Regions from separate parts of the Homo sapiens genome. Here all the other regions are reported to be linked to region 2. Evidence: microRNA targets listed by miRTarBase, many of them from high-throughput screens and not tested one by one. Region 2 holds a microRNA gene; each other region holds the end of a gene's coding sequence.

What was found. The annotated mature microRNA hsa-miR-126-3p reads UCGUACCGUGAGUAAUAAUGCG and lies in region 2 at 4,666-4,687, shown strand. An mRNA with a match to its seed (bases 2 to 7 or 8) in the 3' UTR can be bound and repressed. Matches are read on the target gene's strand: a 7mer-m8 pairs with bases 2 to 8, a 7mer-A1 pairs with bases 2 to 7 and ends in A, and an 8mer does both.
Region 1: miRTarBase lists L2HGDH as a target of hsa-miR-126-3p. Seed matches in the 3' UTR shown: 7mer-A1 at 1,505-1,511.
Region 3: the mRNA of SLC41A2 is a reported target of hsa-miR-126-3p. Seed matches in the 3' UTR shown: 8mer at 1,421-1,428.
Region 4: the mRNA of RBMX is a reported target of hsa-miR-126-3p. The part of its 3' UTR that is shown has no 7-base or 8-base seed match.

What each region holds. Positions count from the first base shown.
Region 1 is chr14:50,240,466-50,247,586 of GRCh38, reverse strand. It overlaps L2HGDH (L-2-hydroxyglutarate dehydrogenase), which reads left to right. Exons shown (of 10, transcript NM_024884.3): 10 at 334-5,153. The coding sequence ends at 529. Among named protein-coding and RNA genes, the nearest start is that of SOS2, 12 kb to the right of the region's middle.
Region 2 is chr9:136,665,988-136,673,108 of GRCh38, forward strand. It overlaps MIR126 (microRNA 126), which reads left to right and starts at 4,615; the gene lies at 4,615-4,699. EGFL7 (EGF like domain multiple 7) reads left to right here. Exons shown (of 11, transcript NM_016215.5): 4 at 2,254-2,375; 5 at 2,570-2,686; 6 at 3,619-3,734; 7 at 3,927-4,022; 8 at 4,182-4,343; 9 at 4,963-5,027; 10 at 5,939-6,101; 11 at 6,277-6,691. The coding sequence starts at 2,296. The coding sequence ends at 6,299. RefSeq lists enhancers at 3,446-3,947, 3,948-4,447.
Region 3 is chr12:104,798,677-104,805,797 of GRCh38, reverse strand. SLC41A2 (solute carrier family 41 member 2) reads left to right here. Exons shown (of 11, transcript NM_001352171.3): 11 at 461-3,997. The coding sequence ends at 646. Among named protein-coding and RNA genes, the nearest start is that of SLC41A2, 160 kb to the left of the region's middle.
Region 4 is chrX:136,867,858-136,874,978 of GRCh38, forward strand. It overlaps RBMX (RNA binding motif protein X-linked), which reads right to left. Exons shown (of 9, transcript NM_002139.4): 9 at 5,604-6,595. The coding sequence ends at 6,285. Among named protein-coding and RNA genes, the nearest start is that of SNORD61, 7.9 kb to the right of the region's middle. RefSeq lists an enhancer at 6,151-7,121.

The sequences.
Region 1 (7,121 bases), not on the chromosome of region 2:
TTTAAATAAAAATATACCTGTTCTAATTAAGTGTGGATTTACCTACTACCTTTGGAAAGAGCAGACATTGATAAATAACTTACTTGTTTTTATGTATTTCTTTGATAAGCGTTTGTTACACTATTGTTACGTAATAGGTTTTAGGCTCTAAGCTAACAATATAGGTTTGACAGGCTACAACTGACAGCCTTTGGTTAAACATAAACTCATTGGGTTTCCATATAATTGTGCATTTAGAAGAATACTTTATTGCTTTAAGACTTTTTGGAAACGCTGACTTGTAAAGTATCCTATGTCTTTGAGTCAGCTGACTCCCATCTTTTACTTTTGCAGGGGCCCAGCTGGAGTAAGAGCCCAGGCCCTGGATAGAGATGGAAATCTGGTAGAAGATTTTGTATTTGATGCAGGAGTTGGGGATATTGGAAATCGCATTCTTCATGTGAGAAATGCACCTTCTCCTGCTGCTACTTCTTCCATTGCAATTTCTGGAATGATTGCAGATGAAGTACAACAAAGATTTGAATTATAAATAATGAAAGGAGCTAGGTATGCACTGTAATCTTCATGTCAGCAACAAGAATGTACTAATTGCATTCTTTAATTTAAAAAATGGTTTTTAAACTTTAGTTTTTAGGTCAAAGATAACCACTGCATTGTTAAAATGATGTAACATAGAAATAATAATTTTCTACAAAAATTAGCCAGGCATGGTGGCGCATGCCTGTAATCTCAGCTACTCAGGAGGCTGAGGCAGGAGAATCAATTGAACCGAGCAGACGGAGGTGAGCTGAGAGCTGAGATTGCACCACTGCACTCCAGCCTGGGTGACAGAGCAAGAAAATAATAATAATAATAATTTTCAAAATGTTAGGCTGGGGGCCGTGGCCAGCACTTTGGGAAGCCAAGGCAGGTAGATTGTAGCCCAGGAGTTTGAGAACAGCCTGGGCAACATGGCAAAACCCTGTTTCTACACAAAGTTAGCTGGGTCTGGTGCCTCTGTAGTTCCAGCTCCTCAGTAGGCTGAGGTGAGAGGATCACTTGAGCCCAGGAGGTCTAGGCTGCAGTGAGCTTATGTTCATGACACTGCATTCCAGGCTGGATGATAGAGCAAGATCTTGTCTCAAAAAAAAAAAAAAAAAAAAAAAAAATCCAGCCTGGGCAACATAGTGAATGAAACCCCATCTCTACAAAAAATACAAAAATTAGCTGGGCATGATGGTGTGTGCCTGTAGTCCCAGCTACTTGGGGGCTGAGGCAGGAGGATCGCTTGAGCCCGGGAGATCAAGGCTACAGTGAGCTGTGTTCATGCCACTATACCCCAGCCTGGGCAACAAAGTGAGTCCCTGACTCAAAAAATAAAAACAACAACAAAAAATAAATTCCATGCTTATTTACTTTGCGAATAAAGAGGCAAGGTACAGTTTTATCTGTCCGAATCCCTGACTTTTATTTATTTTTTTTTTCAGACGGAGTTTCACTCTTGTTGCCCAGGCTTGAGTGCAATGGTACGATCTTGGCTCACTGCAACCTCTGCCTCCCGGGTTCCAGCGATTCTCTTGCCTCAACCTCCTGAGTAGCTGGGATTACAGGCGCCCACCACCATGCCTGGCTAATTTTTTGTATTTTTAGTAGAGACGGGGTTTTGCCATGTTGGCCAGGCTGGTCTCGAATTCCTGACCTCAGGTGATCCACCTGCCTCAGCCTCCCAAAATGCTGGGATTACAGGTGCGAGCCATCATGCTCAGCCCTGAATCCCTGACTTTGTTAATGACCTGTCCTTACCAACCATGACCTAGAGAAGATTTGGCTTTTTAAGAGTTTTGGAGAAAGATGGCATAAAAATAGATTATTTCCTTAAATCAATTTTTTAGCATTACGCTACCTAAGCTCGTTTGGTCTCTCATAGACAAGAAAATACATTATATTGTAGGTTACATTCTTTTAATTTTGAAGAGTCACAAAACTCACATTATTTAGAGCAACAATATTTGTATTTGGAAATTAAAAATTCATGATTTCAAGAAAATACATAAAATTTACATTTTTGAGTAGTTTGAATAAGTTTCTATCTTAATTATAATATTTGTAGGAAATAACAAAACAAACTCAAAGCCTTTATTATTTCCAGTCTCTTTGTAACTGATGTGGTATGGTATCATCATGAAATCTAAACAGTGGTACACTGAGTGGTTGTCCTGTTCTTCAATCTCTGTGGCTGAGAACTGAAATAACTTAGAAGAGACAGATTTTTATGAGAGCAGTTTTAGAATCCTGACACTGATGTATAGAACTCCAATTTAAAAAAGTTATTTATCTATTATATCTCTGATCTTTAGTCACACTAAGGCTCTCAAAATGTTGGCCAAGATTGGTAATGATTCATACGTACTTGATTTTTCAGGGCTCCTATAAACTTGTATAGGGATATTTTTCCATTTTTGATAAATATCTAACTTTGAGGCATTCACTTTTGTAAACCGCGAAAGTGCCTTACATTCACCTCATGAGTATTTTAAGTTGATGCCCAGTGCTGTGGTATATCCTGTATATATGTGTTTTGTGGTATCTATCGAAATTATTCTTATAATTTAGAAAGTTAGAAAATAGAAATTGTAAATGAAAATGTGGCGACCTGACTGCAGAACTTTGAGTACTGAACCACATTTAGGTGAGGCATTTTCATCCATTCTCTCTGATTTGCTCTCTCAGGATTCATCTTCTACTGTGTATGTCTTCTTTCCTCTTAGCTCTCCAAAGCTGTATGATGGATGGGTGAGAAGGATGTGCATTTTGGTTGATAGGAAAAATGTTTCTGTTTTCTTCCTTTTCCCCTCACTTCAAGCATTGATGATTACATTGATTGAGCTACCTCATCCATTAATTTGAAAGGCTACACTTCATCAGCTCATGTTTAAGAAGTAGCACATCCCAGGTAAACAGAGTAGGCCATTATTCAACTCTTAGGATGAGTATATTAAAAGCATTCAGATATCAATGACAGAAGAAACAAGCCCTAATGTTTCTTTATAACAGCTGATTCCTGCAAGAAATGCAAACACAGGATATTTTTCTGTTCCATTACAAGATTACTAAGAGATGGAAAATATTATCATTCTGTATTTTGTCAGTAGTACGATTGCATACATACTAAGTTGTAAACATTGAATTACAAAAAATGATTGTCCTAATTGAAGCAGTCCTCAATCCATTTGAGTCTGTACAATACCCTGAAAAGGAAACAACAGGTGCTGGAGAGGATGTGGAGAAATAGGAACACTTTTACACTGTTGGTGGGACTGTAAACTAGTTCAACCATTGTGGAAGTCAGTGTGGCGATTCCTCAGGGATCTGGAACTAGAAATACCATTTGACCCAGCCATCCCATTACTGGGTATATACCCAAGGGACTATAAATCATGCTGCTATAAAGACACATGCACACGTATGTTTATTGTGGCACTATTCACAATAGTAAAGACTTGGAACCAACCCAAATGTCCAACAACGATAGACTGGATTAAGAAAATGTGGCACATATACACCATGGAATACTATGCAGCCATAAAAAATGATGAGTTCATGTCCTTTGTAGGGACATGGATGAAATTGGAAATCATCATTCTCAGTAAACTATCGCAAGAACAAAAAACCAAACACCGCATGTTCTCACTCATAGATGGGAATTGAACAATGAGAACACATGGACACAGGAAGGGGAACATCACACTCTGGGGACTGTTGTGGGGTGGGGGGAGGGGGGAGGGATAGCATTAGGAGATATACCTAATGCTAAATGACGAGTTAATGGGTGCAGCACACCAGCACGGCACATGTATACATATGTAACTAACCTGCACATTGTGCACATGTACCCTAAAACTTAAAGTATAATAATAAACAATATATATATATATATATATATAAAATACCCTGAAAAATAAAAATGAAAAATTTGTTGAAAGTGTTTTGAATATGTAGGTTATTCTGCTTGTAAAACGTTTTATATGTATGTCAATAGGGTTTTTTTGTTTAATACTGATATAATAAAGTTTTATGTATTTCTGACAGAAGAAATGTATATTAATATTTAAAATATTTTAATGAGCCTTGGTGTTGTAGAGAACATATTTTTTAGTTCCATAAAAACTTTTATGCAAATAAATTTTTTTATGTGTAAAACATAAACTGTTTGCTTTAGATAGATAGCAGCCAACCTTTTTAAAAAACTCATTTCTGTGTTAGTATATAATACAAAATGAGGTTGAGTCATTTATATTTTGGGTAAAAAGTGGAGCATTTTAGATTTTAACTTCAGAGTGTTTGTGAGGAACTCTTGATGTACCAGCAAGTATATTTTTGGTGTTTCATGTTACGTAGCTTAACTCTTTTATCCATACATATATGTGTATATCAAAGTCCTTCCCTTGATCCTCTCAGCATTAGCACTGTTTGGGGAGTTGCCTTTACTGTTGGCAGAATTCCACTTTCCCTGAGGCCATTTGGAAATCTACCTAGTAGCCTGTGGGATAACCTTAACTCTTAGAACTTTCTTCAAAGGATGGTGGTGAGAATGGGGTATACTGCCAGGCCCTGGCCTACGGGAGTTTGTAGGGCCTACTTTTGGAGGCAATCCAACCCTGATGGCTGTACCTATGAGCTATCCCTGTAAACACAGGAGACATGGTGTCTATATTGTTTAAGGACTGGCTCTGCCCTCCTGGGCCCTTAATCTGTGTCTAGACTTCTTGGTCAGAGGTTTCCTCATCTTTCTGCGCATACACTATTATCTAAAGATCTTGTAAACATTTTTGAGTTGTAATCGTAAAGTCAGTTTCTAAGCTTTTCTAACACACTCAAAGGGAGTTTTTGAAATCTCTTCATCAGGGCTTAAGGTAGAAGGACAGGGTGAAATGGTTGGGAAAGCAAAAGCTGCCTCGAGATGTTTTCAAATAGTTTGTACTCATTAAATAGCTTAAGAATGGAAATAAACCCTGAAGCCCTGAAGGGAAGAACAGTGTTGATACCAACCAACTCTACTTTTCTGGCCTCAAATCCTAGAAAGTATTGTGGGTTTGTTGTTGTTGTTGATGTTGTTAATTGCTTGTATTTTCTGCTTATGGGAAGGATCTCACATTAAAGTTATCTTATTTTAAGTTTCTTTTGTCCCTGGGATAAAATGAGAAAATTTACCTTTTAGATATGGCAAGAGATGGCAGGTCTTGGGTTGCTCAGGAAGCCCAATTTTGAATATTAGGAAAGACCTGAGGGACAATGATAACAGAGGGACCTCTCTCACTAGAGAACCTTGAATTTCAGCCAACTTCTGCTTAAAACTGTATCTTTAGAAAAACCTCTTTTAACTTTGTTGCTCTGAAGCACAATGAAATGGCTACAGCAGTGGTTGTTTCTTTTACGCCTTTCAGGTTTAATTTTCTGTAAATTTGTCCACTGGGAATATAAGAGATGTCTTTTAGGGATATCAGTTTATTTTTTAATTTTTATTTATTTTTCTCTTTTCTTTTCTTTTTTTGAGATGGGGTCTTGCTCTGTTTCCCAGGCTGGAGTGTAGTGGGACCACCTTGGCTCACTGCAACCTCCGCCTCCTGGATTCAAGCGATTCTCCTGCCTCAGCCTCTCGAGTAGCTAGGATTACAGGCACGCGCCACCACACCCAGCTAATTTTTTATGTTTTTGGTAGAGATGGGGTTTCACCACGTTGGCCAGTCTGGTCTGGAACTCCTGACCTCAAGTGATCCACCCACCTTGGCCTCCGAAAGTGTCGGGATTACAGGCGTGAGCCACCACTCCCAGCCTTTTTATTTTTTTTTTAAGACAGAGTCTCACTCTGTCACCCAGGACCCAGGCTGGAGTGCAGTGGCATGATCATAGCTCACTGTAGCCTCAACATCCTTAGTAGAGACGGGGTTTCACCATGTTGGCCAGGCTGGTCTCGAACTCCTGACCTCAGGGTATCCACCTTCCTTGGCCTCCCAAAATGCTGGGATTATAGGCATGAGCCACTGCACCCAGCCTTTCTTAGATTCTTGATCAGTCATTCCAGCTGGGACCTCCTGGATCCTTCTAAATACTCAAGTAATCTTCCTGCTTTAGCCCCCTGAATAGCTGAGACTACAGGTGTGCATCTCCATGCCCAGCTAATTTTTTTTTTTTTTTTTTTTTGAGGAGACAGGTTTCACTATTTTGCCCAGGATGGTCTGGAACTCTTGGCCTCAAGCAATCTTCTTGCCTTGGCCTCCCAACGTGCTGAGATTACAGGCATGGGTCGCCACACCTGGCTGTGATATCAGTTTATAATAATAGCAGGTTCTTTAGTTTGTTTGGGTTTTTGTTGTTGTTTTGGTCTCTGAGTAGCTTCCCAAATCACAGGGGCCACGTACTAATTGCTCTTTCCCAGAATGCCTAGATCCTTAACCTTTGCCTATGTTTTTCTTAGATGCTTTTTTTTTCCCTTTTTTTTTCTTTTTGAGACGGAATCTCACTCTGTTGCCCAGGCTGGAGTGCAGTGGCATGATCTCAGTTCACTTCAACCTCCGCCTCCTGGGTTCAAGCAGTTCTCTTGCCTCAGCCTCCTGAGTAGTTGGAACTACAGTCACACACCACGATGCCCGGCTAATTTTTGTATTTTTAGTAGAGATGGGGTTTCACCATGTTGGCCAGGCTGGTCTCGAACTCCTGACCTCAGGGTATCCACCTGCCTTGGCCTCCCAAAATGCTGCGATTATAGGCATGAGCCACTGCACCCAGCCTTTCTTAGATTCTTGATCAGTCATTCCAGCTGGGACCTCCTGGATCCTTCTAAATACTCAGAACCAAGCATGTTGGTTATGTTACAGGCCAACAGTAAAAGGTTGTCTTCTGACATCCAACTTTGTGCTTTGGAATTTAGGGATATAAAGATGCTTTTTGCTTCTACTTTGCATGTTAGAATTTTGTGGTTGGTAGTGAACTTTTGAATATACTTTTATTTTTGAATTCTCTCCAGAATTACTTGGTAAGTTTTCTGGAATTAAAGAAAAAGCCTAGTGTTAAATGTTATTTTAAAAGAGTTGATGCGACATTGAGGATTTCAAGGTTCTACCAGCATTTCTAATTGAGAGAAT
Region 2 (7,121 bases):
CCGGGGCGCCCGCGGCTGGGTCGGGCCGGGCCGGGAGAATGGGCCCAGCGGCCCCGGGAACCGGCTCCCCCTGCCGGCGGCGGGCGGGCGGGCGGCGCGGCGGGGAGGGCCGGGGTCGCCGCGGCCCCTCGTCCGACCCGGCGCGACTCAGCGCCTCGGGGCCCAGCCTGTGCCGCCTGCTCCGCCCCCCGCGAACCCCGGAGCCAGCAGCGCGGCTGGGAGGGGGCGGCGGGCAGGTCCGTCTCGCTCCGCCTCTGCGCCCTCCCTCGTGGGCCCCGCGGTCCCCAGCCCTGCTCCCGCCGCGAGGGGTCCGCCAGTGCCTGCGGCGCAGCCAGGCCCCTCCCTCTGCGGACCCGGCCTCTCGCGGGTGGGGGCTGCGGGGCTGCTGCCGGGCAGGTGGGGAGGGAGCCCGTGGGCGCTGGGGGCACGGGGACCGGACTGCTGGTCCACCTGGCGCCGCCGCCCCCTCCCCGCCCGGCACCCCTGGGTCGAGGCCGTGGCCCCCCCCGGGGAAATGGGGCTTGCAGCACCGGCTCGGAGAGCACCACGGGCTTCCTCTGGCCTCGGGAAAACATGACTTTCAAAAATTGAGTCTCCACTTAGCACCGCTTCCTGTCCAGGCGACTCTCAGGAATTGTGGGGGGGAGCTGTGCCAATATGTGTGGGGGGCAATGAGGTCTGGGAGATTCGCCTACCCCCAGGCCCGCCCTGGCATCCCCCTGCCCACATCAAGCCGCCGGGCCGCTGCCCTACCTCTTCCTTCCCGGGTCCCACTCCCCAATGTCCCCCGACTTCGAGTCTTGCCTTGAGGTCGCACCAGACCCAGCCCCTAACAGTGTCCTTCATCCAGGGCCCATCCCCAGAGTTAATCTCCAGCCAGCTCTGCCCCCTCGACAAACTCCTGCCCAAAAACTGCTGTGATGCCCCCCCTGCCCCCAAGCTAAGTCCCCACCCCTCAGCTGCCCAGGGCAGCCTCTGCCTAGTTGGCAGCCTCTGCCCTGCCCTCCTCTCTCCAGCGCACAGAGGACTGGAGGCCCAGGAAGGACCCCCAGCCACCCTCCCCGCTGGGACCGGGTGATGCCTTGGCAGTGCCCGTGGGAAGCAGGTGTGGGATCGTGCTCCACACCCAGTGGGGCTGGCCAGCAGCGACTGAGGACAGTGTGACTATTTATAGGACTGGCTGTCAGAGCTGAGGAGGGGCCTCAGAGACCCTATTCTAGTGTGTGAGGAAACTGAATCCCAGAGAAGGGACAGCCTTACCCCAGCCTCTGCCCCGACCCGAAGCCTGGCCTTTCCCTGCGGAGGGCCCTGCAGTGCCTCGGAAGGAACCCACCCAGCCTTTGGGAAGCACCCGTGAGAGGCCCTGGGTGGGACCCTGCAGCATGGCAGGGGCTCGCCAGGTCTCCAGACCCCTGGCTGCGCATAGGACAGAATCCCCATCCCCGGCATTGCCACAGACCATTAATTCTGGGCTCTCATGCTCTCAGGAAGCCTCACCCGGGCCCCTGGCTCCTGCTGCACAGCCAGGAGGGGGTTGGATTCCGGTTCCGGTGACACTGTCGGGGGCTGCTCCTCACCCCCAGGTGTGCACCTGGCACAGCCACTGTCCCAGGATCCCTGGAGGCTGATTGCACACATATCCCAGCCTGGGAAGGACCCCCTCTAAAATGAAGGCCGCCCCTCTGGTGGTCTTAGAATGTGTGCACCCTCCGCACGGTTCCTGCTGGCTTGCAGCTGCTGGCCCACCTGCTGGGGCCGGTTCCACACTCAGATGAGAAATCAAATTCCAGAAGGGCTGAGGCCGGCAGGTCCCTGGTGGGGCTGGATCCCAGCTCTGCCCACGAACACCCCGTTTGCATAGACTGGGGTGCAAACTCACCCCTGCCCTGCTGTGAGGAGGGCCCTGGAACCAGGCAGGACAGGAGAAACGGCCACCCGTAGCTGGAGCCATCCTTCCCGGAGCCTCGGGCAGATGCCCAGCAGGATCCACTCGATTCCTGCACCAAGAGCTCTGGACAGCGTCACCCCCCCTGTGCCCCCAGGCTGTGGCCCCAGCTGTTTGTGCCTGGCGAGGGTCTGGCTAGCTGGAAGAGGGGGCCAGCGGAGGAGAGAGTGGGCGCCACCGTGGGGCTGTCCCACCGGTGGAGGCTCCAGCGGAGATGAGCTGGGCAGGCCTCGCGGAGCAAGTGCAAACTGCACCCGCGTCCTGGGGGCATCTGCGGGGAGACTTAGGGGTCATGCTTTGTGCCCCAGGCCACCCAGAGGAGAAGGCCACCCCGCCTGGAGGCACAGGCCATGAGGGGCTCTCAGGAGGTGCTGCTGATGTGGCTTCTGGTGTTGGCAGTGGGCGGCACAGAGCACGCCTACCGGCCCGGGTGAGCCAAGCCCTAGCCTGGGAGTGCTGGGGTGGGGGGACCGGGAGCCCTCAGCACCTCCTAGAGGCGGCCCTCAGCACCTGTCGGGGACTCCCTGGGGGCTCCTGCTGAGGGTCCTGCCCCGGCCACATGTTCCCATCATTCTTGGGTCCTGCTCTGGGACTCCTGGGCTGACCCCCTCTCCACCCCCGCAGCCGTAGGGTGTGTGCTGTCCGGGCTCACGGGGACCCTGTCTCCGAGTCGTTCGTGCAGCGTGTGTACCAGCCCTTCCTCACCACCTGCGACGGGCACCGGGCCTGCAGCACCTACCGGTGAGTGCCCCACCACACCGAGCTCACCCAGCCCCAGCCTCCCAAGTCGGCCACACATCAGCATGTCAGGGGCGAGGCGGGGGTGAATCCTGGGACCCAAGATGGGAAACTGAGGCCAGAGCCATGAGAGGGCTGCCTGAGATGGGCGACCCAGGGCGGCCGGAGCCAAGGGGTTCCACGATCACCTCCAGTGTCCTAATCCTTGCTCTTGCCCCGACACGTCTCAAAGGACCGCACCTCTAAGAGCATCCCCATGTTTAGAGGGGTCACCCATCCTGTCTGCACCCCTCCACTTCCGGGGGACTAACCCCTCCCTACCCTGGCATCCCTGGCTGCAAGTTCCCATATACACAGAATGGTGCCTGACTCCCCTGGTCCCACTCCACTGGGCACCCCCCTCCACATGACGGCCCCCAGTGGGCACAGATGAGACCCTGAAATGTCCTGTATGCCCACACAAGGGGCACACACCCCTAAGTCTCAGAGTCCTCCTTCCTGGGTGTGGGAGCTCCACCCCCTGCTGGGGGAGGGGCCTGGGAATTCAGACTTCTGGAGGTTTAAGAAGGGCTCCGATGCCCAGGGCCCACACTCTGCCGTGACTCGCCGTAGGCCGGGCACACCCTCTCCTCTGGGCCTGGATGCCCCCACAGTAGGAGACCAGATAGGTGGGGGCACACACAGGCCTGGCCACTGCCTCTGCTCCATGCGGAGTGTGGCTGGGCCTTCCTGCTGTGGCTTGAGTCCCGGCCAGCACCGGAAGGCCCAGGCAGGGAAACGGCTGTGCAGTGACCCCTCAGTGCCATCCCTTGAGGAGAAGACCCTTGGGGGCATGCTGGGGTGACCCTGTGCACTCTGAGAGGGGACTCTAGATGCCCAGCAGGTGACTAAGGGGGAGTAGGATGCCCCTCTGAGCTGTCCCACCCACCCCACAGAACCATCTATAGGACCGCCTACCGCCGCAGCCCTGGGCTGGCCCCTGCCAGGCCTCGCTACGCGTGCTGCCCCGGCTGGAAGAGGACCAGCGGGCTTCCTGGGGCCTGTGGAGCAGGTGAGGGCTATGTCCCTCGGCGCCCGGTGTTAGGAGGGCGACTGTTCCCCAATCTTCCAGCAACGCTCCTGCTGCTTTTCTTGAACCCCGAGCAAAGCACCACCTTGCCGCAGAGCACCCACTCCCTAGCAGCTGCCCCCACAGGGTGCTGGGGACCCAACTGAGCTGGTGACCAGCCTCCCCCGCCCACAGCAATATGCCAGCCGCCATGCCGGAACGGAGGGAGCTGTGTCCAGCCTGGCCGCTGCCGCTGCCCTGCAGGATGGCGGGGTGACACTTGCCAGTCAGGTGAGGCTGGCTCTACCCTGGGGGGCCCTGGAAGGGTCCTGGGCACCTCCTTGCATGTCCTGGGGTTACTGCTGGCCCATGAGTGGGTGGTTGTGAAGGGAGCTGTGTGGGCAGGACCCCTCCCGCAGGCATGGCCGCCTGACACCCCGTTTCCTGCAGATGTGGATGAATGCAGTGCTAGGAGGGGCGGCTGTCCCCAGCGCTGCGTCAACACCGCCGGCAGTTACTGGTGCCAGTGTTGGGAGGGGCACAGCCTGTCTGCAGACGGTACACTCTGTGTGCCCAAGGGAGGGCCCCCCAGGGTGGCCCCCAACCCGACAGGTAAACAGCCCTGGCTGTGCCTGGCCTGGGGAGGCGGGCAGGCAGTGGACATTGCCGTGTGGCTGTTAGGCATGGTGGGGGGCACTGGAATCTGGGCGGAAGGCGGTGGGGACTCCCTCTCCAGGGAGGGAGGATGGGGAGGGAGGATAGGTGGGTTCCCGAGAACTGGGGGCAGGTTGCCCGGAGCCTCATATCAGCCAAGAAGGCAGAAGTGCCCCGTCCCGGGGTCCTGTCTGCATCCAGCGCAGCATTCTGGAAGACGCCACGCCTCCGCTGGCGACGGGACATTATTACTTTTGGTACGCGCTGTGACACTTCAAACTCGTACCGTGAGTAATAATGCGCCGTCCACGGCACCGCATCGAAAACGCCGCTGAGACCTCAGCCTTGACCTCCCTCAGCGTGGCCGGGACCCTGAGCCTCTGCGCAGAGCCACCCGCCCCGACGTACTTAGGCGGCATAGCCCTGAGACCTCTGGCCAGCGCCAGGCAGGCAGCGGGGGCGGCAGAGGCCTGGGCCTGAGTCTTCTGGCTCTGCCTCTCCCTGGGGACAGGAGGGAGCCTGGGGGTGTGGGTGGGGAGCCGGCCGGCCGTGACCCAGCGCCTGGCTCTGCCCGCAGGAGTGGACAGTGCAATGAAGGAAGAAGTGCAGAGGCTGCAGTCCAGGGTGGACCTGCTGGAGGAGGTGAGGCATTGGTGGGGGGGGGGGGGGGCAGGCAGTCCAGGGTGGACCTGCTGGAGGAGGTGAGGTGTGGAGGGGCAGGCAGTCCAGGGTGAACCTGCTGGAGGAGGTGAGGCATCGGGGGGGTAGGCAGGCAGTCCAGGGTGGACCTGCTGGAGGAGGTGAGGCGTCGGGGGGGCAGGCAGTCCAGGGTGGACCTGCTGGAGGAGGTGAGGCGTCGGGGGGGCAGGCAGTCCAGGGTGGACCTGCTGGAGGAGATGAGGCGTCGGGGGGGGAGGCAGGCAGTCCAGGGTGGACCTGCTGGAGGAGGTGAGACGTCGGCAGGGGGCAGGTCTTCACAACAGCAGAGGCCCAGGCCCGGGTACAGGCTCCGTAGTCTCCTGGGACATGGTCCCGACCCACGGATGGCTGGGGGTGGTCTGAAAAGGTCCTGGCCCTGGGGAGGTGGCTTCCTCGCTGCTGACTGCCGAGGGGGCCCTGGCCTGGATCCATGCTGGGCAGAAGCAGCTGGACACTGACCAGGACCCCCCAGGGCCGGAGGAACCAAGCTTGACAGCCCCCCAGACAATACACAGAGCCTGGACCCAGACGAGACCTCCCCACCCCCCCATCTTTGTCCCCACCAGGACAAAGAGCTCTTGCCAGTCTTCCCACTGGCCAGTGGTCCAGCTGTCCCCCTAGTTCTCCTGCCAGGGACCCCAAGGCTGGGACCACCCCGCCAGCCTGATGCCCCAGGCACCCACTCTGCGGCAAGCTTTTCTGCCACGGCAGCCCCCTCTAGTGGACACTTGGAGCCCTGCCGCGGAGGCGGGGGCTGGAGGCTTGTGGAGCCCTTCCCAGGGGTCCTCCCTAGACCCCGGTGGAGCAGAGAGGGCGGGGGCCGGCCCAGGGTCACTGCCCTTCTGCACCCACAGAAGCTGCAGCTGGTGCTGGCCCCACTGCACAGCCTGGCCTCGCAGGCACTGGAGCATGGGCTCCCGGACCCCGGCAGCCTCCTGGTGCACTCCTTCCAGCAGCTCGGCCGCATCGACTCCCTGAGCGAGCAGATTTCCTTCCTGGAGGAGCAGCTGGGGTCCTGTGAGTGCCCCCACCCTCCAGAGCCCTCCTCCCGGGTCTGGGCCCAGTGGGCCTAGAGGGGCTACCCAGGCTTGGGGGTCGGGGGCGACCAAAGGCCAAGGGGCCAGTCAGATCTAGCTGGGCGGGGAGGCTGTGGGGAGCAGTGATCTCTGACCTTCGCCTCATCCAACCCTAGGCTCCTGCAAGAAAGACTCGTGACTGCCCAGCGCCCCAGGCTGGACTGAGCCCCTCACGCCGCCCTGCAGCCCCCATGCCCCTGCCCAACATGCTGGGGGTCCAGAAACCACCTCGGGGTGACTGAGCGGAAGGCCAGGCAGGGCCTTCCTCCTCTTCCTCCTCCCCTTCCTCGGGAGGCTCCCCAGACCCTGGCATGGGATGGGCTGGGATCTTCTCTGTGAATCCACCCCTGGCTACCCCCACCCTGGCTACCCCAACGGCATCCCAAGGCCAGGTGGGCCCTCAGCTGAGGGAAGGTACGAGCTCCCTGCTGGAGCCTGGGACCCATGGCACAGGCCAGGCAGCCCGGAGGCTGGGTGGGGCCTCAGTGGGGGCTGCTGCCTGACCCCCAGCACAATAAAAATGAAACGTGAGCTGCTGTGTCAGTGGATGGACTGGGGGCCTGGGAGGAGGGCGCTCACCTCCTGGCCACCCCTCCCAGACCCACTGCTGGGTGCCAGCTGGCAAAGGGGGCCTGGTGGAGCGGGCAGTCGTGGGGTGGGGAGGGGGTCCAAGGCAGAGGGGGTGGGCAGGTGGTTTCTGTGAGGCCACAGAGAGCTTTGTCCTGGGGACATGTTGGCCCCAACCAGAGGCCAAAGAGCAAATCTCTGGCCTCCTTCCCAGTAGCCTGAGGATCCCGGCACACTTGCCCGTTAGGCGACACCCCCACCCATCGATGGAAGTAGTATAGGGTGATGTGGGTCCACTCCTGGATAGGGAACACGGGTGGGTGGCGGTGCCTGCACCCTGGGCCTCTAGGCAGGGCAGCTGGGAAGACACAGCGTCGCCTCCACCGCCCTGGTC
Region 3 (7,121 bases), not on the chromosome of region 2:
ACAAGTCAAAAATGGCCTTATAATTAGTAAACGAATGGTCAGTTTTCCATCTTTATTTGATATACCTGCAGCAGGAGACTGTTAAATAATTCCTTATTTAAATTTTTATTTCCTTCTTCATAATGTCTTCCTTTTTCACAGGTTTATCACATAGAAAAACAGTCTTTTGGAAACTGTACAGTGCTATTAAAATATCCAAATTATTATGGCTATTGGGAGGCTAGAATGAGATCTATATGAAAAGTTGAAGAAAAATTTTAGTACCTGTAAACATACATGCTGTTTTTTTTCTTGTGAAATGAAAGTATTCTTGTCATCTAAGTATTTCTTATTTTCAAGCATGGTTCTTGACTTAGACACATACGGTCCCTTCCAGAAGCCAGTGGTTTAGGCTTGTGGCCATGTTTCATGGGCTAGGAATGTCCAGGCAGCCGGAGTAATCTCTGTTGTTCTCTTCTAGGTATTTACCTTGCTGTGGATTGCTGACTGGATGGTCCATCACTTCTGGAGGAAAGGAAAGGACCCGGATAGTTTCTCCATCCCCTACCTAACAGCATTGGGTGATCTGCTCGGGACAGCTCTGTTAGCCTTAAGTTTTCATTTTCTTTGGCTTATTGGAGATCGAGATGGAGATGTTGGAGACTAATAAATTCTACAAACTGCTCTCAAGTTACCAAGGAAGAAAATACACGACAACCACTTATGGCTCTTTTTCAAAACTCTTAAATCAGTAGTTTGACTTTTGCCAGGGTAATCTTCAGTTGGCCCTGATTCAATTAAATGGCCTTAATTTTTTTTTAAGGAATTTGTGTCAAAACCAGAATGAAGAGTATTCGTGCTGCTTTTCATAGAATAAATGATAATTTGACATAGACATAGATATAAGTTCCAGCTCTGAAATTAATTAGGAAAGAATATAGGATGTTTACAGTGAATAATTTTAAAACCACAAACATAGCAGAAATGTACTTTATTATTAAATTTGTAATGCAGGATTAGAAGAAGCAGAGCTCTAGTTTAGCCTTTCTTGTCTCACAGATGTGCTGTATCCCAGGCATACTATAAAACGAAGAGTGCCCAACCAAGCTTTGAATCGTATTAACAATGCCCACCTCTATGCTAGCTGAGGATAAATTTACCAGTTGCTCATATTTAAACTGACCTAAATATGTTTTGCTGAGCATAAGATAAACTCACTTTTACCTCCATCTAAAATTATCCTGTTCTGATGCCAATTCAATTTCAGCTCTGCAAGTTCTTGTCAGGCTAATCTTTAAACATTGAGTGATCTTGAGAGATTGTTAATGAAAGCAGTGAGTCATTTTTTGATGATTGATTTGTTGGAAAAATGTTGATGTGTTTTAAAAAATGTAATCTTCAAAAACAGAATATAACCTGAGATGCATTTGTAGAGACAAGACGGTACGAGAATGTGTGTGTGTGTGTGTGTGAGAGAGAGAGACTTTTGATGAAGAACTAAATCTTGGATTGCTGATAGCAAAGATCATAGTGCTGTTGGAATATCAGCAATATAGAGTTATTCTTAAACACATTCTATTAACATGTTTTTGTCATTGGGTCCAAAAATTTTGCTGCTGACCAGAATTTACTATTTGTTACCTATATTCTTTTTTTTTTTTTTTTTTTTTTTTTTTGAGACAGAGTCTTGCTCTGTCGCCCAGGCTGGAATGCAGTGGTGTGATCTCGGCTCACTGCTACCTCCACCTCCTGGATTCAAGTGATTCTCCTGCCTCAGCCTCCCGAGTAGCTGGGATTACAGGAATGCGCCACAACGCCCAGCTAATTTGTTACCTACACTCTAATTAATAATTAATAATTTCTTATTTTAAAAAGTAGTACTATTTAATATAATCAAGATAGGAGATTTAAAATGAGCAAGTGATTCATTTGCTCTTTTAAAGAAGCCCGTTGACTTACGCTTTTAAAAAAGAAGTTGGTGGGTTACCTCAATTATTGTTCATGCTTAAACATATCCATTTGTACAGGCTTATTTCTACGTGGGACCCAATCATATATACTATATTTCTCAAATAATTTTTCTAAAACTCTGGCCTATATTCTAAACACTTGACCAACACCTTAGTTATTGAATAGGTAACCATTTTTAAAGTACATGTGGTTCATTTTTTAAAATTCAATCTCTCAAGACCGTTAGATATTTAATAATTTAAGCTGATAAGGGTATCAAAATGCACATTAACTTTGATCATCATGATTTAAGTTGTAACTTTGTGTTATTATATAAATATTAGGTTGTTTATAAATATATTGCAGAAAGTATTCTTGTTAAGCTCTTTTAAATGAGGGGACTGTGGTTTAGAGTTATATATTTTTGCTTATTTTTAAACTTCAATTATTCCATTCTTCTGCCTTATAATAAAACTTTTAAGGCAGAGAACTGAACTAATTATAGAATTTCTCCTTTGGAGAGTTATAATGTTACATAGTGAACATTCTTATAAAAGAAAGAATAAGTTTAAGTTGATGAATATTTAGCTGCAAAGATTTTTTACTTAAAAAAATCCATGAATATCTTTGATTTTATTATAAAGCATTTGTAAATTATTTGCATTTGAGCTGTAAGATTCATAAACATTTACATTTCCCAATGATTTCTATTTTGATTTTTAAAAAATATACAGGGCAAGCTACATTTTTAAAGCATTAATCAACAACTTTATTATATTACACATTCCAGTGCACAAACACACAATATCATTTAATACTCACAGTAGTACCTGTGAAATATATCAGATGGATATTCCTATCTCTATTTTACAGCAGAGGAAACCGAAATTCAGAGAACTTACATTTCTAAGGTTGTACAGCTGCAAAATGACCAAATTGTGAAGTCCCTAACATCCAGGTTTTCATAATGCCAGTACTCTTTCTATGACATGTTTATGACCCTCCAAATGTACCAAAACTACCTAACTAATTCACTGAGAGGAAGCCAACTGCAAAAATAGGATTTTTAAAAGTACAATAGAGTATTACTACATTTTATGGATTTCAGACAAAGAAACCTCCGTTTATTATATCCTGATGGTGAGTATTGCCAGCTCTAAATTATTCATATTTCTAAGACCAAGGAAAATATAGGTAAATGAAAATTTTGAAATAAAGAACAATGCCTTAATTTGTAAAATCTATCATTGCTACCACCCTGCCCAGGTCTGGCCATTTGCCATAAATGCTGGTAAATAAATACAATGACTGATAGAGTTCTGTCTCCTTTCTCTTTTGCTACCCAACCTTGGTTAGAGCAACCAAATGTCTAAAAGGCATGTAACAGGAGAAAAAAATAAAAACATTAGTCACCAATTCGCCGATTATAAAAGGGATGTAGATTCCTTTAAATTATTACTGACCTTTTGAAAGCCTTCACGTAAGTATGCAACAGATAAAATGACTCATTTACCCACAACAATAATCTATTATCAGTCTTAAGTAATGTGAATTCACTGTATTTCTTTTTATACAACATAAAAACTTCTGCTTTCCAAACTTCTTCCTTTTCACTAATTTATCAGCCACTTTATTTATACACAGATAACACTTTTAGAAACATTTTTCTTTCTTGTCCATTTTTTTCTTTCAAAAATAAAGTTTCTTAGAACCTGATAAAATGGAAACTTATGGTAATATGTGTTCTGGTAGGTGTCCAAAAATTCCACACCATAGACTATCAATGATATAGCCAAATAAAGGCCATTCAAAAAAATCAGTAATTGGGATTCCTTGCCTTATATCTATGGTATAGTGTACCCATTTATAACGGGGTTCTGCCATCTTCGAATTGTTTTAAACTCAAATAAAGAATAAAATTTAAGAAATAATTATCCAGTCTTGTTATGCTTACTTCTTGATGAACTAGAGAACATCAAGCCAGTGTGGAAATCTCCCAGAAGAGACTGGGGTAATTTATGTATACATATGATATTTATGAATTATAATAAATTGGGCTTTGACCATATCTAGACCTCCAATGCATTGCTTTACTACTTTTTGACTGTCAAATACTCTCCTCATTTCTTCACTCCTCTCATTATCCAGCTTACATTGCTTGGTTCATCAGTCCATACATCTGCAACTGCCTCTCTCATGCTGGCAGGACAGAATACAAACTCTGGATAAAGACAGCTCTCTGTGTTTTGCCTGTACCTGAGTGCTCAATATGGCTCATGAAAAACACACAACTCCTCTGACAGATCTTTAAATTTATAACCTCAGACATCAAGTTAACCCCCAACTGCCCAGCAACCTACTCTGTTTCTCTAATGACTTTACTTTCTGAGAGACAGGTCTTTGTCCCCAGCACTTTACTGAAAGCAAACTTGTTGTCAACCTAAATAGTAAACAGAGAGAAGGTTTCTAAAAGAAAATGATATTCAGGAATAGGCATTGCAATGGGAATACACGTGCCACAGTGTTCCCACTGCATATGAACTACCTGCATATTCAGGGAGGTAAAGGAAGGAGGAGGTTTTTAAAGAAGGATTACAAATTATTTTGAGATAATTATCCTTGGCTACAAGGATCGACAGCAAGCATAACGCCAGTCTGAGGTTGAACAGGTGTTTGCTGGGCGGATATTCTCACAGAAGTATTTTTTGTGTGTAAGGTTGCAATGGCCATTGTACAAGGTTGTGGTTTTTGCAGAGTCTTTTGTGATGGTTTTTGTTACTGGGCATTTATGCATGAGAAACCTTTCTTCATGGCCTTCTCTGGCTCTATTTGTCAGAGTTTTATTAACACAAGTGACTCCATTATGTTTCTGACAAGTTTCACATTTCCCCCTTTTGATCAAGATATTTCTCCAAAAGCATCACTGACCAATCATCCTGTATTCAGGTGTTGATAGCTCCTGATGCCAGGATGGGCCCGTCCTGGGTTGCTGATCTGGTCCTATGTTAGAGAAAGTGAATGGTGGCTAGGAGTCCGTGTCAAAACCCTATTATCCACGTTTGAGCAACAAGGGAGGTTTGAAGGGAGTGGATCTCAGGCTAAGTCTACCTGGAGTCCATTATTAAGTTCAATTTTTTCTGTTCCATAGTCGTTTGCTGTTATCTCAAAGTGCTGGGCCAGCATTGTTCTGTTAGGAGTTCTACTTCTGCAAAAATTTAACAAGTAATAGTGCAAACTTTAAAAAGGAAATAATAGTAATTTGAAAATCCCTGTTTGCATAATGGTTTTGAGCTGTGAATCTAGGCTTAAAGACAACTATTTGAATGAAACAAATGACCATAGGGAATTAGGTAAGACCTGTTGTAACCATGTGGCTATGTTTTTATTTTGCTTATATGGGTTTCAACTTTCCCAGAGGGATTTATCCGGGTACAGCATGCAATATTTGCAATAGCACAGAAATTTTCTTATTTAGCCAGTAAATAATATAGAGCTATTTATCATCTAGTATCCCATGACTGGGTTGAATTAAAGCAAAAGGTGAGCACCAATTGTATTAAGGATGTTGCCAAAGTCACCCAATAAGTGGGCTAAGGAATCTTTTAGATTAGTTTCTGTCTAGTTACTGGCAGAAGCTACTGATTAAGAAATTTACACCATTATCCAGCCAAGTGAAAAAGGTAGCAGTAAGGGAGGTCAGGGTCTTGTTATGATATAGAGTCTTGTGCCAATATCTTGGGAAAAGCTGTCTACAGCATGAAAATGTCAATTTCTTATCCTGTTTGCAGTTTGAATGTCTCTGGTTATGGCATTAGGCAGTTTGGTGAACTCTTTGTGTGGCTCATACATCAGGCACAAGACTTGTTCCTTAAAATTTATCATTTCAGCTTATAGAGATTTAGGAACAGAGCAGTTCCTGTTTTTAGTAATTCCATGGAAGAAAGTTGGATTAAAGGAATATAAAAGAATTCAGGATCTAGTCTACTCTATAGGTAAATAAGAACCTGAAAACAATGCACAGAGCTATAATCTAATAGCAGATGTATTATAGCTTTTTCTTTATAAATATAACTATTTCTGCCTATGTTGATCACACAGGAATCTCAGATTTAAAAACCTCTTGAGGCTAGGAAACCAAACTAAGGAAGACTTTAGATGTTACCTACAGTCCTAAGGCTCCTGAGCCTGCCAGGAAGTGAGTTTTTATTCACCGTAAGGCTGAGAACCCTTGAAGTCAGGTATTCTATGCATATTCTCCAATCTATTTCACTCAAAGCCTTGGTAATATAACCAGTATTTTCATTGTATCCAGTTATAGAAAGCAGATTTTTACTGAATTTATGCAAATAACCATGAATAGTTCCCACATTTTGGAGGCATCAAGTAGGTAGAAAAGCAATTGCTTCCATCTTTGTTCACACGAGTACACTTTACCAAATTTCTGTAAACTATGGATAACTAAGAAAAAAAAAGTTCCTTCAATCTGGAAAATAAAACATTTAAGAACCAATAATGTTTCAAATAAACATAAAAACATCTTCATCAGTTACTTAATCTCATGTAATTAATTTTTGTTTTGCTTGATCTTATCTGTTTTATGAACCCATCAGTTTCTTCATTAAATTTTTGAAAATTTTTTATGTAGTCCATTGATCTTACAGTTATTAGAAACCTGTATTTAAGAGTAGTTGTTAGAGTATTTTTCATGAAACTAATTGCAAATGCTTTTGGAGAAAAATCAAAACAATAATTGTGAATGACAGAGACTTAAAATAGCCATGGTTAAGAATCTGACTTTGATTCATTACAATCAGCAATTGACAAGGAAATTTGGTTATTTTATGGCATACAATATAATAACCAGAATTATGGCCAATAAGATATTAGATTTCTAAGAGTTTTGTACAGTTGGGGACATTCATATCAATAACATACCCATAAATGTAACTGAAAGAAAACCTAGCATCACTTATCATTTGACAATACTTCCCGTACAAACAAGCCTAGTCACTTAATATCTCTACAAGATGAAAGATACATCCTTTGAGGCTCTCCAGTGGCCCACATGGAAAATCCTGAAGTTAATTCTAGGTCAAAAAGATTTAATTTAGAATGTTGATCCTGGAGAAGCCTGCCAAAGATGCCAAAAAGTTCAAAATACTTGATCAAAACAGGATCGCAGGTCACTGTGA
Region 4 (7,121 bases), not on the chromosome of region 2:
TTCATCTCAGTAATTACAAAAACAAAAGCTACTGTGAGAACATTTATAGCAACTTTATGCATGAAAGCCAAAAACCAGAAAAGGCCCAGGTTTCCATGAATGGGAAAGCATACCATACTCGGCAACATGGAACTACTGATGTATACACGGCTAAAACTCAAGTACTTTGAGATGATGGTAATTATCCATCATTGATAGAGTATACATTTCTCAGTTCATAAAACAGTACCCTTAATACTTGAGTATTTCAGATTTAAATGTTATCTTAAAAATTGATTAAAGTTGAACTAATTGATACAAAAGTTCAAGTTACTTTTCAGGAAGTATACTGACATGTGCAACATAAAGTATTGACGGGATGAGTAGAGAGATGTTTTCCTGGAACAATAGGTATAGAACTGGCTGCGCGTTGTAGCTCACACCTGTAATCCCAGCACTTTGGGAGGCCAAGGTGGGCAGATCACTTGAGTTCAGGAGGTTCAAGACCAGGCTGGCCAACATGATGACAACCCCATCTCTACTAAAACACAAAAATTAGCTGGGTGTGGTGGCGCACGCCCGTAATCCCAGCTACTTGGGAGGCTGAGGTAGGACAATCGTTTGAACCCGGGAGGCGGAGGTTGCAGCGATCCGAGATGGTGCCACTGCACTCCAGCCTGGGGGACATGGTGAGACTCCATCTCATTAATAAACCCCCCCAAAAAAACAGGTGTAGAGCTGAGATTATTTACAGAATGACAATACTTAGGGCTTTCTCTGCCATCTTAATGCTTAGCTGCATTCTTTCTCCATGTGCTGAGTTCTGTTCAACTGACTACATAACCCAAATGCAATGCCCAGTTTTAGACACAAACGAACATCAACTAGTCAGATATATACAGGACACTAGGTAAAGCAGAGAAACTGAAAACTGCAAATTCAGAAGCATATTATCACATGCATTGCTTGACCCAAAGTATTTGGAATCCACAGCCACAACTGAGTTGTTGCTGACCTGTTTTTCCCCAAGAGGTAAGCAGGAATTACATAAAAGCACTACAGTTGACTCCTGGTTTATTTAGCCTCTGCTTCTTAGGTGTGTGATTGTGCTTCCATTTAACTTTTAGGGTGAGGACTGAATGAAGTCATCTACATTCCCCCTGAAGCTCACTCTCAATAAAGGAGGCCTAGTCACAAAAACAGCCTCAATGACTCTGGACATTCCCATGCAAAACTGATTAAGTGCCATCAATGCAACAGAGGTAGTGTTTGGGGGAGGGGGACATGGGAAAAACATTTAAAAACATAAACCCCTAATTTCTAAGTAAAGAAGAGCCCCTTGCCACAAAAAAAGATGCCATGTTAAAGTTTTATTAAGTTTCAATACAAAACATTCCAAAAAGTGAAAAGTGATCTATAATACCCAAGTTCTATGTTCAACTACCAGTTAAACAAGGAAAACATTTTCTGTATCATTCTGTTTTACAACCAGTATAAACCCAGAAGAATCAAGATCTGATTCCTTTTCCACACATCTGCTAGGTCAGTAAACTATCAAACAGGTATCTGGTCATTTTAACATACTCCTTATATTCCTATTTGGTACAATCTCTATATCCTATACTATCTTCAAGATATCTAAATATCTTAAATATTTAGGGTATCTCAAGAGCCAGAAGGTCCTCACAGAAGCGTTAACCCAAGTAATCGTAAGAGTATAGAAAGATTGGGCTAAGACAACTATGGAGTGCAAAAACCACATAAATTTGGTCATTACCCTTGTGGTCTGTGATTAGTAGTAGGTTGTCAAATGAGAGTTAAAAATGTTGTATTATCCCTAGTTGCAAATGTTCCAAATAAGACAGTGCCATAACTACACGACAAAAACAAAAAAAAAATCATATAAGTTGGGTTAGTTCCTCTAATCCAACAACTCAAGTCTGTTTCCTTTGAGAACATTATACTATTGGCTCTAGTCTCCAAACCAATAAAAAACTAAAACTTGTTTCCAAGACTGGGAGGTAAAGTAGGCTTATAAAACAATACAGCAAAAGAAAGCCAAGTGGCCTAATTGTTTCCAGTGTGCTTGCCATCTTAGCATGGTTACTTTCCAGATGTCACTCATAAGTTTTATTCTACAACTAAACTGTTTGTGGATAAGCCACCACCAAAAAATGTTTCACTTACTGACAGACACTTCACTAGATACAGCTACCACTTATATCCATCATTTTTATAATTCAACTTAAGTTCTAAATTGAAGAGTTGTCCCCATGACTTTAGCTAAACAAAATGAAAGCCAAAGCTGTAAAATCTATGTGAAGAACCACAAGAACTTCCTGACTACCTCCACTTACCAATTTCCTTAATTACTTCCCCTTTTCCATTTGGTCAATTACTTGCTTTAAGTAACTACCAGTCACTCCCTAGTTATGAGTGTTAATCAACACTGATGCCTTCCTCAGATCCACAGGAACCCCTGAAGGCAAAATCTATTGCCTGCACCAAACCAATTCTGACAGCACTGCTTATGCAACTGTAGTGACTTATTGACAATCAGCCGCCTTCTGCTTCAACAACTCTGTAAAATGAAAAACATGGGATCCTGTTACATAGTATTTGTTTTACTGTAAAGTACTTCCCCCCAAACTATCATTTAAATATATACTTTTTTGTTGCTTTAGCTGAAAATAAAAGTAACTGCTTTAAAAAGCAAGCAGGCGCAGTGGCTCACGCTTGTAATCCCAACACTGGGAGGCCGAGACAGGCAGATCACTCAAGGTCAGGAGTTTGAGACCAGCCTGGCCAACACAGTGAAACCCTGTCTCTACAAAAAGTACAAAGATTAGCCGGGCACGGTGGTGCACACCCGTAGTCCCAGCTACTTGGGGAGTCTGAGGCAGGAGAATCGCTTGAACCTGAGAGGCAGTGAGTTGAGAAGCCATCTCAAAAAAAAAAAAAGAAAAAGAAAAAAAGAAAAAAAAAGAAAGCCGCATGCAGTGGCTCACGTCTATAATCTCAGCACATTGGGAGGTCGAGGCGGGCGGATCACCTGAGGTTAGGGGTTCAAGACCAGCCTGGCCAACAGTGAAACCCTGTCTACTAAAAATACAAATAATAATAATAATAATAACCGACATAGTGGCAGGCACCTGTAATCCCAGCTACTTGGAAAGCTGAGGCAGGAAAATCACTTGAACCTGGGAAGCAGAGGTTGCAGTGAGCTGAGATCACACCATTGCACTCTAGCCTGGGCAACAAGTGCAAAACTGTCTCAGAAGAGAAGAAAAAAAAAAAACCACGCAAGCTTAAAAAATCAACCATAGGCGGCCAGGTGCGGTGGCTCATGCCTATAATCCCAGCACTTTGGGAGGCGAGGCAGGCAGATCACAAGGTCAGGAGATCGAGACCATCCTAACACAGTAAAACCCCATCTCTACTAAAAATACAAAAAATCAGCCGGGCGTGGCAGTGTGCACCTGTAGTCCCAGCTACTGGGGGAGGCTGAGGCACAGGAGAATGGCGTGAACCCGGGAGGCAGAGCTTGCAGTGAGCCGAGATCGCGCCACTGCACTCCAGCCTGGGCAACAGAGCAAGACTCCGTCTCAAAAAAAAAAAAAAAAAGGTAATATTGAAATTACATACTATGTCGTCATTATGTCAATGTCAATAAAATTATGTTAAACAGGGAGCTTGCAGCCACAGTTGCATCATTAACTCCACATTTAGTCAATTTGTATTGTAGCTATGCAAATGAGCAAGCACTAACTAGTAACAACGAAAGTATATCCTTTTACAAAATGCACTGAGCAAATTTTTTTTTTCCTCTTCTTGAGACAGGGTCTTGCTGTTGCCCAGGCTGGAGTGCAATGGCGTGATCTCGGCTCACTGCAACCTCTGCCTCCTGGGTTCAAGCAATTCTGCCTCAGCCTCCCCAGTAGCTGGGATTACAGGCGCACACCACCACGCCCGGTGTTTTTTTTTTTTTTTTTTTTTCTAGTACAGATGAGGTTTCACCATGTTTGCCAGACTGGTCTCGAACTCCTGACCTCATGGTCTGCCCGCCTTGGCCTCCCAAAGTCCTGGGATTAAAGGCACGAGCCATGGTGCCCAGCTGAGCAAACTTCTTACGTGTGTACTTCCTTGTTGAGAATGCTTGCATATGAAGAGCTATAAGCAAGCTTTATGGGTTCAAAAATAGCTAAGAATAATCTCATGAATGAGCCAGACTCACGGAAATGTAACCTCACTCTAAATTCACAATGAATGTGTCAGGCACTACACATTAAAGCACTTAACTTCATCAATTCCAAGCAGCGTTTTCTTTTACAGATGAAGTGAGGACCACAATAACTTGCCAATGTCACAGCTAAACTAAATGGTAGTTACACAACATTTAAACCTTCAAAGGCCATTGCTTTCAACACTTACCTTAGCATTTCTTACTGCCAGCTTTATCTACTGTGAATCAATCAGCACTCCACGACCATAATGAGCAAAATCACCAACCTGCAAAAGTTAAATAAATGAAAACTAGTTATCTCTCTTAAGGAAATTCTTTTAAAACTTGCCTATTACTGCCCTCTTTTCCAGAAAGAAAAGGCAAGTTCAGACTTGCAGCTTAATATATTTCATGTTCTACTATTTGTCTTAAGTGGTGGAAGATTCACTGGCTCGGGATGGACTGGAATGGCTTAAATTGTTAAGTTGCATGGCTTATGGATTGTCATTCTGTTCCAATGGTGCACTGCCACGTTAAATCCATAAGTTGAACGAACAAAACTTATTTGAAGGAATAAGTGCAGTATAAGGATTTTTAGTTGGAGGTCTTCAAGTTTACTATATTCAAGAGCATCTTTTTCAACTTCATGGCTGGACCTGGGTCATGCTGCCTCAGGTTTTGCTTTTTAAAGACCACTTGCAATAGATTTTCTCCATACAGTGTAGTTTCATAGAACTAAAAACAAGTCAGGCATCCAACTAAATGTCAAGTTTGCAATGGCTTACAGGGGTAAAAAGGGGGACCCCAAACTTAAGCCATTTCCTATATTGACTAAAAGACTAATTTGAAAAAAATGTTAAAAACATACGAAGCATGTTTAAAGGTCTTCATCAAAAATGGACTTTGAAAAAAATACCCCCTCCCAAGCCCCAGATCGCCATTGGTAAACAACAGCTCTATTAATAAAGCCTTTAAGTGTCACACATGCTTTAAAAAAAAAAAAAAAAAATCCAAGTGTTGAATTTGGAGGACTTCTAATACGCTATTGAATATTTCTTTTTTCCAAAAGTTTTTTTTAATCTAGAAGGCATTTCCATTGCCTTGAGGTACAGTATGTTTCACTGTACTATGAGGAAGGTAAGTGTTCAATTTCGACTTAGACGGAAAAACTAGTTTGCTTTGCTTACCATCTTTGCTGTTTCACAGGCATTTGATGCTTTAAATCTGATGTGGAATGCTGATAGATTCACTTTTTAGAAGTCATAAGCCTTTAGGAAGTTGGAGATAACTTCATTGCTTATCTATTTTCTCCTTTGCAATCAAGCTGTTCCTTTAAAAGTGAGACACTACAGAGTTGCAAAAATTTGAAACAGTAAGAGCAAGCACCTTTGCAGCTTCATGGTTGGTTTTGGCCAAACTTTTTATTTAGTATTCTGTAGTTGTTTAACACACACTTAAATGGTCTTATTGGGGGAAGGGAAAGGGGAGGTTCTTGCAGATTCCCAAGGAAATGTCAGAAAGGCAAAATGGCCAGCATTATCCATTTGCTTTTTTGGGTTTACTGGGTGAATAGCACTTTCCTTACATAGGCATGTGATTTCAGGTTTTTCGTACTGAGAACATTGAGATTTCAGTTGGAAGACACCCTGAAATCTTATGAGTAGCATACCCCAACCACCCTCTAATAGCTAGCTTGTTTGTATAGGTAGAATGATTCATCTCTCCATTTTAGATGGCTAGATGTTTTGTGGAAGATCTTAGAATTGCCTGCCTCATTTGCTGGGAAAAATCAGATAGGAAGTGGCCTTTAGGGGATACTTTTACTTGGAAAGTTACAACACTAGTACAAGTCTTAACACATTTAACATTTGCTTGTTGAAAAGCAATGCGAAAGTCAAATAAAATTAAACATGTTTTACTTTTTTCCTCACAAGAACATAAAAATTATGGAGGGGAACTTAACAGGGAATTTAAAAAAAGTAACACAATTTTTCCTTTTAGTAGTCCTTGGGTAGTTATGATAGAATAGTTTCCACTTTTTGTTTCTTTGAACTGGGATTTTGGTCCAAAGTTTTGTTTGTTTCTAGTATCTGCTTCTGCCTCCCCCTCTATCAGATCGGCTTCCTCCACGGCCACCACCTCTTGGTGCTCCGCGGCTTGAACTGCTGTAGGAATCACGTGGAGGAGGGTACCCCCTTTCCATAGAAGGGGGAAGCCCTCTTTCTTGTCTGCCAACCCGATCACGACCACTTGAGTAGAGATCACTTCGGCTGCTTGAGTAACTGTCTCGACTTCCACCATATCCGTCACGTGAGCTGCTGTAATCATCATAGCGACTGCTTCCACCATAAGATGGCGGGGGCCCTCGTGTAGGTGGAGCACTACGTGAGTTACCTGCAGGGTCAATGGTCAGGTAATATGGCAACACTATAAATTGTATATATACAACATTTTAAATCTGAATTTACAGAATTCTTGTATTAAAAGTTTACTTTCTCAACTGGGTGGGAGGTTTTAAACTCTGCCATTGCTGGCCATAACAGGGATTTGCTCATCTGCTGAGATATGGAATTGGATTCATTTTAATGTTTGTTTGAAAAGACTGAAGACGGTGTGTATTTCAAGAGGATATTCCAGAGAGCTTGTTATTTTATAGTAGACACTCAGCCACTTTCCAGTGATAAGTTGCAATTTTGAACTGTAGAACTTGCCTTCATATTGCAATGGTAAATATTTGATCTTGTTAATAAAATTTTTAAATTGTATTTTCACTGTTGGGGGAAAACACATAAGGCTGCCAATTTAAGCAAGCAAAATCCCCTCCAAAGCAAGCAAACAGCCTCAAAAGAAACTTAGAAAAACAAAAAAAGCCCCTCACAAAACTAGGAAAAGCCCAGCTGATAAAGTTACCCCTTTAAAA